2 separate regions of the Homo sapiens genome follow, and region 1 is linked to region 2. The links come from fine-mapping of genetic effects on plasma protein levels. A gene starts in region 2. The other region holds a variant in brackets. All regions are shown on one strand. Distances are from middle to middle.

What was found. PIP is the posterior inclusion probability: the model's chance that the variant is causal. The UK Biobank Pharma Proteomics Project read protein levels with antibody pairs (Olink). The fine-mapping took linkage between variants from a reference panel, not from the people measured, so its PIPs are less certain.
Region 1: its variant is fine-mapped to the plasma level of the NPY protein (UK Biobank, PIP above 0.99).

The regions. Positions count from the first base shown.
Region 1 is chr7:24,267,382-24,272,761 of GRCh38, reverse strand. All of the region lies in intron 2 of LOC107986777 (a long non-coding RNA gene), which reads left to right. Among named protein-coding and RNA genes, the nearest start is that of NPY, 14 kb to the left of the region's middle. The variant T/A (reference allele first, on the strand shown) is at 3,283.
Region 2 is chr7:24,281,125-24,286,499 of GRCh38, reverse strand. NPY (neuropeptide Y) reads right to left here and starts at 2,310. Exons shown (of 4, transcript NM_000905.4): 1 at 2,225-2,310; 2 at 1,072-1,259. The coding sequence starts at 1,259. All of the region lies in intron 2 of LOC107986777 (a long non-coding RNA gene), which reads left to right.

The DNA of each region.
Region 1 (5,380 bases), 14 kb after region 2:
GATTCCCAGCACTCAATAGATACTATAGTTTGGTTTCTTTGACCCCTCCAATGTTATGTTGAAATTTGATCCCCAATGTTGGAGGTGAGTCCTAATGGGAAGTGTTTGGGTCATAGGGGTAGCACCCTTATGAATGGCTTTATGTTGTCCTTGTAGTAATGGATGAGTTCTTGCTTTATTAGTTCCTGTGAGAGCTGGTTGTTTAAAAGAGCCTACTACCTCCCTCCTCTCTCTCTTGCTTGCTCTCTCGGCACACGATTTCTGCACACACCAGCTCCCCTTCACCTTCTGCCATGAGTAGAAGCAGCCTGAGGCTCTCATCAGAAGCAGGTGCTAGTGCCATGCTTCTTGCACAGCCTGCAGAACCATAAGCCAAATAAACCTCTTTTCTTTATAAATTACCCTGTATTCTTTTATAGCAACACAAATGAATTAAGACAATAGATTTCCAATAAATATGTATTGATCAAAATAAATATCTTTATGCAACTGAAGTTTATAACTGAGTTTTAGAAGGGCCTGATAGAACAGGGATTGGCAAACTGTAACCTATGGGCCACCTCCCTACCACCTGTTTTTGTAAATAACGTTTTGTGAGAATGCAGCCACACCTATTCATTTACATATTGCTTATGGCTGCTTTCTTGCTGCAATGACAAAGTTGAGAAGTTACAACAGACACTGTATGGCTCACAACGTCTAAAGTATTTACTTTCTGGCTCTTTATAGAAAGTATGCAGAACGTTGATTTAGAATTTAAATATTTTACATAAACTATAGGTAAGTAAACATGATAGACAATTTGAGGGTCCTGAGCGTGCCAAACTACTTCCTGCCCGGGGCTCTTCCTCATTCTATTTTCTCCTGAGCATGCCAAACTACTTCCTGCCCGGGGCTCTTCATCATTCTATTTTCTCTTTCAGCGAACTCCCACTTATCCTTCACATTTACTCTATATGTCATTTCTCCATGATCCCTCAATCTAGATTAGGTTCCTCTCCAACTCACCTCATTGTATGATCCCACGATATCTTATAATTTACCTTTAAAGATCCTTTAAAGAACTTTATCTTTAAAGATAGCTCTAACTGTCTATTTAGGTATATAGTCAAAGTGTTATTTTTAGTTTGATGTGTCTAACATTTCATAATTGTAAGCTCCCTGAGAGCAGGGATACGTGTTTCGTTTTGCTCACCATTAAAATCCCCATACTTAGAATAACATACTTGTATACTTGGAAGATACTTGGCTCTTAGTAGGTGCTCAATAAAAATGAGTTAAATGATCATGAGACTTGGCGTGTGATTATATATATAACTTGTAGCTGAAGTTTGTTAGGGTTTTAGGGGTCCAACAAATAACAACTACCCACCACTCCTGCCGCCACCATGGCACCATGGAAACTGATCAATAGTCAGAAGTCAGACATAGAGATCAATATACGAGGTTTGTCACTAGTAAACTATAGATTGCAAGACGTACCTTTAGCTCTGCTTGCTTTTTAAGAAACAAACTCTAGTTTTTCAACATTTATTTTACTTCTAGCAAGCCACATAAGGCAATTTTGCATGCTTTGTTTCCTTTCTAGAGTTATTTTTAATTTTAATGGTGTCCTTTAACATATGCATGTATTCAAACACTGCTTATTGCTTATCTCACATATCAACATTTTCTTTCAGGTGTTTGTCTCAAAAGAATTTAAAAGAGTAGCCACTCTGTAAAGTTAGAAAGGAGTAATAACATTAATATGCTTCTCTTCTTTAATACCTTTTCTTCCCCCCATGGATCACACGGATGGTGAATAACAAGAAATCAAACAGCATCCTCTTGAGATGGGAACTTTCTTAGTGGAACTGAAATTATGAAAATAGGACAGAGAAATGGCACAATTAGTTTAGATGTTAGAGAAGCAAGGGATGATAAGGACACAACATTTATATTTTCTAGTAACCTAGAAGACCACGTTATCCATTATATAAAAATTAAACTAAATTTAAGAATGATAAAGGATGATAATCTAATAGTTTAATTTTAAGAAATAATCTGAGGATTATTTTCTCTTAGAGAATTTATGCTATGTACATTTATATTATGTAGTTTAAAAAATTATTTTAAAATTTGTTAATGCATACACATAATTTCTTTTGATTAATTTTTTGAATTATCATTTGAATTTTTTTTTTTTTTTTTGAGACAGAGTCTAGCTCTTTCGCCCAGGCTGGAGTGCAGTGGCACCGTGGCGCCATCTCGGTTCACTGCAAGCTCCGCCTCCTGGGTTCACACCATTCTCCTGCCTCAGTTTCCCGAGTAGCTGGGACTACAGGCGCCTGCCACCATGCCCGGCTAATTTTTTGTATTTTTAGTAGAGATGGGGTTTCACCATGTTAGCCAGGATGGTCTCGATCTACTGACCTCGTGATCCGCCCGCCTCAGCCTCCCAAAGTGCTGGGATTACAGGCGTGAGCCACCGCACCCGGCCGTAATTTTTTTTTAAAGATGCAACTTGAAAGTCTTGCTCCTATCCCTGTCAACATTTATCTCATTTTCCTACCTCCCACTGGGGTAATCATTTTTATTAACTTTTTGCATATGTTTCCCAACTTTCTTTATGCAAATAAAAGCAAAAATTAATATATGTTCTTATATTTCTCCTTTTCTTATAAACAAATGCAACATGCTATACACACTGCTTGGCATCTTGATTTTATTATTTAATATTCTCTCTTGGACATCTTTCCATTTTAGAACTAAAAGCCATCTTCAATCTTTGTTAAAAACAATTTTCGACAGAAAAAATTTCATTGTATAGATGTATTGTAATTTTTTTACCAGTCCTCTATAATGTGCACTTTGTTTCCAGTCTTTTGTTATTAAAACGTAACGAAACTAATAACTTTATAAATTTGTCATTTTTTATATGTATATTTGTAGGAAAGTTTCTCAAACGTGGGATTGTGAGGCTGGACACCATGGCTCACACCTGTAATCCCAGGCACTTTGAGAGGCTGAGGCAGGCAGATCACTTGAGCTCAGGAGTTCAAGACCAATCTGAGCTAGCGAACATGGCAAAACCCTGCCTCTACTAAAAATACAAAAAAGCTAGCTGGGTGTGGTGGCACGAGCCTGTAGGCTTAGCTAGTTGGGGGGCTGAAGTGGGAGGATCGCTTCAGTCTGAGAGGTTGAGCTTGCAGTGAGCCGTCTTCACTCCTTTTCACTCCAGCCCAGGTGAGTGGGAAAGAAAAAAAACAAAGTGGGATTGTGGGTTCAACAGACATTTGTAAA[T/A]CTTATACATAGTTGCCAAATTGCTGTACATAGGGGATTTAAAAAGTCCCACTCTCACTAACAATCTAAAAGATGTCATTTTCCCACAGCCTGAACCACATATAGTCACATTTTGGATTCTTATAATGTGACAATTAAAAAAGGGGGAAGGGGAAGAGGTATTTTGAATTATCTTAAATTACATTTCTTTTATTATAAATGAGATTAAGCATCTTTTCATGTATTTACAAGCCATTTTTTACCTTTCCTTAAAAATTTTCTATTATATATAATATTAGATATTATATAAGAATATCTAAAATATTCTTTGACCTTTTTTCTGGGTTGTTGATCTTTTTAAAATCAATTTTATTCATTCTTTTAATAAATATTTTGAGAGCTTACTGTGGCCAGGAACTGTTCCAAGCATTTGGGATATATTTAAAAACAAAATACATACAAGGCTTACAGTTTAAACAGAAAATGAATAAGAGACACAATTTTACAAGTAAATGACTTGGTTTGTGAGACAGTGATGAGTGCTATGCAGAAAGTCACAAAGACTTGAAGAAGGTGAAGGAGTGAGCCACGCAAATCACGGGGGCAGAGCATCCGAGACCACAGAAAACCTGACATGATGACTCTAAGGAGGGCATGAGCAGAGTGGTAGCAGGGAAGGGGTGAAAAATGGTTGGATTCCAGATATATGTTAAAAATAGAGCAAATAATCTGTGAGAAAGAAGGAAGACAGCCAAGGATGACTGCAGATTTTTTGGCCAGAGTAACTGAAAGTATGGGGTTGCCCCCAACAGTAACAGGGAGTAGGTTTGGGGTTGGCATTGGGAGCTCAGTTGAAGATATGTCAAGATTTGGATGTCTATTAGACCCTGAGATGTCAGTTGTATCTCCAAATCTGGAGTTAAGGAGTGAGATCAGGCCTTGATAAATAAATTCAGGAGTTGTTTGCCTTTTGATGACATTTAAAGATATGACAATAGATAAGATGACCAAGGAATTGAGTGGAGAAAGAGGCAAGAAGGTGTCCACATCAAGTCTTGCAGTGAGCTGACATTGAGAGGCCAGAAGGTGAGAAAGGAAGAGCAAAGTAGCCTGAGAATGAGGGACCAGAGAGGTAGAGGAAAACCAAAAGAGTTTGAGATTTGGTATTCTAGATGTCATGTGCAAATGTTTTTTCAAGAAAGAGGAAATGGACTTCTGCATCAACTGCTGAAAAGTAAAGTCAAATTGACCACTGGCTAAAATTGACCACCGGCTTGAGCAATGTGGGAGTCTTGACAAAAAGCAGTTTCAGTAGAAGTGGCAGAAGGAAAGACACTAGATAGGATTTAAGAGAGAAAAAGAAGATATTGGAGACAATTCAGGGAGTTTCACTGCAAAGGAAAGTAGTAAAAGGGGCAGTAACTGGTGAGGGAAATGACATCAAGAGAAATGTCTTTTAAGATGGGGAAAAAGGGAGCATATTGGTCTGCTGGATGGAATGATCAGGAAGAAAGAAAAAGTGGCACTGAAGGTGAGAGCTTCTAGAAGATTTTATATATTTGAGAGTTTCTTCTTTTGTGAAATGAGTTGCAAAAACTAATTTGTGGTTTGTCACTCATCTTTTGACTTTAATGTGTTGTTTTTGCCTTACAGAAGTTTTAAATTTAAAGTTGAATGTATCAATCTTTTCTTGTGTGCTTCTGAATTTTAGCTCTTAGTTTATTTAAAAGGCCTTCCACACTCTACAGCAGAGGTCTGTGAAATAGGGCTAAGGACCAAATCTAGTCTCTCACCTGTTTTTGCAAATAAAGTTTTATTGGAACACAGCCACACTCATTTGTTATGGTTGCTTTTGCACCACAACGGCATAACTGAGTAGTTGTGACTTTAAAATGGTGGTAAATACACACTACATAAAGTTTTCAGTATAACAGTGAATGATGAGAAAATACTATATTTTGGGTGGAACTATGTATAACCACTAAATAGAATAGTAGACAACATTTCTTATTTAATACTATATATTCTAGAGCAGTTTATGTTGTGGGGAAAGATGTTTGGAGAGGGTGGTAGCTTACAAATCTAAAGTATTTACAACATTTGACACTTTATGAAAAAG
Region 2 (5,375 bases):
AAATAAATAAATATATAAACCCCACAATACTTTAAACATATAATTTAAACATGTTAACTAACATTAATGCTTCTAAAGGGCTTATCCTTTAGATACGGTCAAATGACTAAAATCATTTAATCTCAGTAATTAAAATAAGATATTAAATGATTTAGAACTAAGATCAACCAATTTTGAAAACAAAATTTAAATCCTATGTAATTTGTAAAATAGTTTGGATTTGATTTTTCCCTTAATTGTCAATGTTGAGAGTGAAAATATGGCATTTCATTTTGACTTTCGGAATGTTCAGAATAAAGTTTACAATTTCTCAGATTCCATGTAATCCCTGAATTCATCCTAAAGTTACTGGACCAACGTAAGTTTCTTCTTAATGAAATACCAAGTGGGCACTTTCTTTTCAGAATTCACCAGCTATAAAATAGGGAGACCTCTGCATTTTAGATAAACTGTTTTCAGGCTAAATCTCTAATTATTGGGACTAGAATTTTCAAATATGGGAGTGAGACTGCAAAAAAAACACAGTGAAGAAGAAAAGAAAATAGCTCTATTTGTCTTTTTCTAAATACTGTCATTCAATTAGCCCTGGGCAGGCCGGAAAGTCTGACAATGTCTGTGGCAACCCTGCAGTTTACTCCTTGGTTTGGTTTTCTTTGGTGGTCGTTCTGTTTCTCCTAGACACCTTGCTAGCGTTTCCCCCTACAGCATTTCTCTGGCGCATTCTTGCCCCTTTCACTGGGTACTTTCGAGATTTCTGGACCGGGCCCCACTGCCGTAAGAACCACAACAAACCATAAGAGGTGAGTGAGAGGAGATTGCCAGCCTACCAGCCTGGGGAACCTGAATCTGGGGATCACGACTCTGTGACTGTAGTTGCACAAAATGGAAGGTACCCATTTTGTGTAGAGTGTGCCCTGTACAAACATTTACCTAGAGCTGACTAAGTGCCTGATACTGTCCTGCCCTGGGATAGAGCGAAGGAAAAGAAACAATCCCTTTCCCTAACATCCCCAGGATCTCCTGGTGTGCAGGCACTGGCGCTCCCGGAATCGGTCCCGCGGTCCCACCCACCTCTGCCTGGTGATGAGGTTGATGTAGTGTCGCAGCGCCGAGTAGTATCTGGCCATGTCCTCCGCTGGTGCGTCCTCGCCCGGGTTGTCCGGCTTGGAGGGGTACGCCTCGGCCAGCGCACCCAGGCACACGAGCAGGGACAGGGCGAGGGTCAGTCCGGACAGCCCCAGTCGCTTGTTACCTAGCATCTGCAGGCACAGAAGGCTCAACGGACGGGCTTGGGGATTCAGAGCACCCACGCGCAGCACCTCCCTCCTCTGCCCCCCGCGCTCCTCCTCCTGCTACCACACGCGACCCCCAATCCGCTCTCGTCCCAGTCCCGCAGAGAGAACCCAGGAGTGGCTAGCACCACCTTGCGGGCTCCGGGCGCCGTCCGGTCGGGACCTGCCCCTCTGCTCCACCTGAAAACTTCGCGCAACTTCGTTCGAAGTCTCAGGGACCAAGAAGCGCGCGGCGAGAGTGCAAGGTGGGGGCCCCGCCAGTTTAGCATTCAAAACCGAATTGGAAGTTCTTCCTGCTGGGTCACTTTTCTCCCTTCTTGCCCAAACTCTTGTCTGGGAAGAAAAGTTTCTTCTCTGTTACTTCTGGTCTGCCTAGCTTCAGGGGATCAACGCTGACAGCAGAGATCACCTCGGGGTGACGACTGCGGTGGGGAAGGGGAAAGAGAATTGCTCCCTGGGCCAGAATTGCTCCAAAGAGATTTGGAGCCCAAGAATCCAGGGAGGTGGCAGGGCGCGGGGCTCTAGAGCTCCAGGGATTCCTCACTCGATGGCGCTGCCGGGGAAACCTTCCTACCGCGCACCGCTTCCTGGGCCTCAAGGCGGCGACCCGCAGGGAGACCGCCAGCTGCCTTGGGATAGCGGTCCCGGGTTCTCCCTCCATATCTGCTAAAAGGTAACTCAGAAGAACCGCCCAGCGGGAAGGGCCCGGGAGAAGGGCCGTGGACAATCAGAGGGGAGCAGAGGAACAAGTGGAATTTAGCCGCCAAGAGGGCTGGTCCGCGTCGGGGCGCGGAGCCGGCATAGTCCGCTGGGGAGTGGAGCGCGATCATCCCAGGGCCCCAGGGCTCCACAGAGCGGGAGGCTGCGTCTCTAGCAAGTTCGCGGGCGCCCCGTTCGCTCCCACCCCTAGACAGACGGGTCGTAGCACTCACGGTGGCTGGCGCGCGGGCGTGGCTGGGCGGCAAGTACTATGCTGTCGGGCGAGCGTCTCCGAGGGGTGAGAGCCAGCGGATGGGGTGCAGAGAGCGGGTCGCGACAGGGCTTTTATGGAGCTTCCTCGCCGCGGCAGGAGGGGCCTCGGGCAGTCACGCTTGGGTGACTCCCACCCGCCACTTCCCGCCCCTGAGTGGCGGGGGGAGGGGGCTGGAACCGCAGCCGCACGAGTGTCGACTTAGGGAGCCACCCACACCCCAACCCTCCCGCCCCAGGCACTGCCTGAAGAAGCGGGGCCTGGGACCGCGTGAGCGAGGCAGCGCACTCCGAGCGCGCTGGACAACACCAAAGCCCAAGTATCTGCCCTCGGGCAGTGCCCGATCCCTGCTTTCCTTCTTTCCTTCTTTCCTTCACGCCCCGTCTAGTCCTGCCAGAGATAGGAGCAGCCCAGACGATTCTTGTCTCCTGCCAACAGGACTACCAACCCACTGGGTGCCGGAGTAGGAAGCACCTGAATCCTCTTTGTGGTGGGGCATCTCCACGACTAGCGCGGCATCCTCGCCGGGCACAACTGCGCGCTGTTGGAGTGAGGCAACTGGGCGCACAGATTTTTCCTGTACTTAGAACAAGTCGGAGGCAGCTGCCGGAAGTCTCCGGCTAGAGGGTCCCAAAGCTGCGCTCCCCACCCCACCCCCGCCCGTGGTTTCAGGGGCTTCTGCCCCTTCTCTCAGCTGGTTTTTCTAGATCAGCCTTCCTCAAGTACTCGCTCAGACGCAGCGAGCCAGGCTCGGTCGAGACATGAGTGTGGCGACTCAAAATTCCCCAGAGGGGGAACACGGTAAACCTATTCCCCCAGTTTGCTGAAAAAGAGCCACGCTTCCAGCTTCTAGAGACTCTTTTAAGCTCAATTTTAAAAATATATATTTTTTCTTTTTTGGTCCAAAGTGACGGTGGTTAAATGAACAACAGTTTCTGTCTTATTTACTAACCCTTGTATAGTCCTATGTACGTTCAATTAACGTTGAGAATGTGGGTTCTGATTAAGATGAAACATGTTAAAAACGATGAACATTAATTTGCTCATCGCGTTAAACCTGTTGAATGAATATGCAAGATACAGAAACTATTATTACAGGATCAAGATTTTATGCAGTGGACTGAGATCTGAAAGTTCCGTGAATGAATGCTCCTGTATCTTTCTAAATAAAATGGCATTTTATTTCTAAATGAAATATAAGTCTGAATCTTTCTAAATAAAAAGGCATGTTGGGAAATTAAAGCATTAAGTTCCATGTTATTTTAATGCTAAAAGGACAAGTGATTCTGTTAAACTGACACTTAGTTTTTGTGCTGTTCCAACAGCATTGAATTAAATATCAAAAACCGTGAAGCAAACAATCCTTTGCATGTATGTGTTTGTGTGTTTGTGGGATCAAACTATAATTTTGGAGACCAACATCCCTTTCACTTGGCAACTGCTTCTCTTTCTGTATTACACAAACATATGCTGAGGACACAAAAATCAAGGCTCTCAGAGTTGCTCGGGGGTGCTTACAAGACACAGCCTTCGGTAAAAGTGCAAAACATCTTCTAACTTAGAGCTCTTCCTAGATAAAGGGAAAGTTACAGTCCACTTTTCAATAAAATAATCTTATTTTAGAGTGTATCACAGATTCATATCAATTAAAATCTGAACTTAAAATGTATCACTGAATTTGGGAAAAATTACTTCTAGGAAGGCCCACACCACTATTGAGAGAAGAACACTGTGGAGGCTTGATTAATTTAGCTTAAGATAATGTCATTGATTCTCAAGAATAAGAACTTATTCTGAGGGTTAAGGATTCAGAGAATAAAAAATAGGGGGTGATATGCCCTACATGTGCTTACATCCTTATCTCCTTTCTCTCCAGTCCAAGCCACATCCCCTGGCCAAAATACAAACAAAACCAACTGTTGGCAACTCAACCCTGCATCTTCTCCTAGCTGCTGAGCCATTTCTCTCCTTTGTTTCAAAGTCAAGTTGTTTATTTCTAACAGCTTTGTTAAGATAACATTGAGATACTGTTGAGCTTGTTGAGATTCAAAAGGAGGTGAATCAGTGGAGACTAGAGAAGGTAATGACCGAGAGAAGTCAAATAACCGGTAAAGGTCCATGTGGTTTGCAATTAGGAGGTCTTACTGATAGCAGGTTCATAGCTTGATTCAGATAGAACCTGGACCACATGAAACCCAGTGGTTTCATGACTAAACCTAAGGTAAAGAAGCAGAAGGAATGAATAGATACTGCTGAATATATACAAAGCTACAAATGTGTAAAATATTCAATTGGATATATTCTTACACATATGCATGTGTGTTATATGCTCAGGAAGCCATCACTGAAACCAAGAAAATGAAGATTATACATCACTTCCCCAAATTTCCACATGTACCTTTGTAATTCCTTCCTTTTGCCTCTTCCTCACCCCCTCCTCCATTGATCTGCTATCACTAGAGATTTGTTTGCGTTTTCTAGAATTGCACATAAATATAGTTCCACGGTAGGTACTCTTTGTCTGACTTCTTTCACTTAGCATCATTATTTTTGAATCCACTCACATTGTTAAATGTAGCAATAGTTTATTCTTTTTTATTGCTGGGCAGTATTTCATTATATGATATACTTCAAAATTTTTAATCAATTCTACTGCTCATGAATTTTTGGTTATTTTCACTTGAAACTTTTACGAATAAAGCTGCCTTGACATTCATATGCAAGTCTTTGTATGGACATAAAGCCTTTAATTCTCTTGGAAAATACTTAAAACCAGAATGGCTGAGTCAGACGGTGAGTGTATATTGGCCCACAGTTTGTTGGTGATCTGTTTTTGCTTCTGTTTTGCTCATTTTTTCCTTCATATTTTATTTTGGATAGTCTCTATTGCTATGTCTGTGAGTTCACTAATGTTTTCTTCTGTAATATCTGATTACTGCCAATCCTATCCAGTGTATTTTGCACCTTATACCTGGTAGCTTTCATCTCTAGAGTTTCAACTTGAATCTTTTTTTTAAGTTACAGGACAATATAAAGCAATGAATCTTTTTTATATCTTCCGTATCTAAACGTGTCCACTCTTCTCTCTAGCTTCTTGAATATACATTAATAAT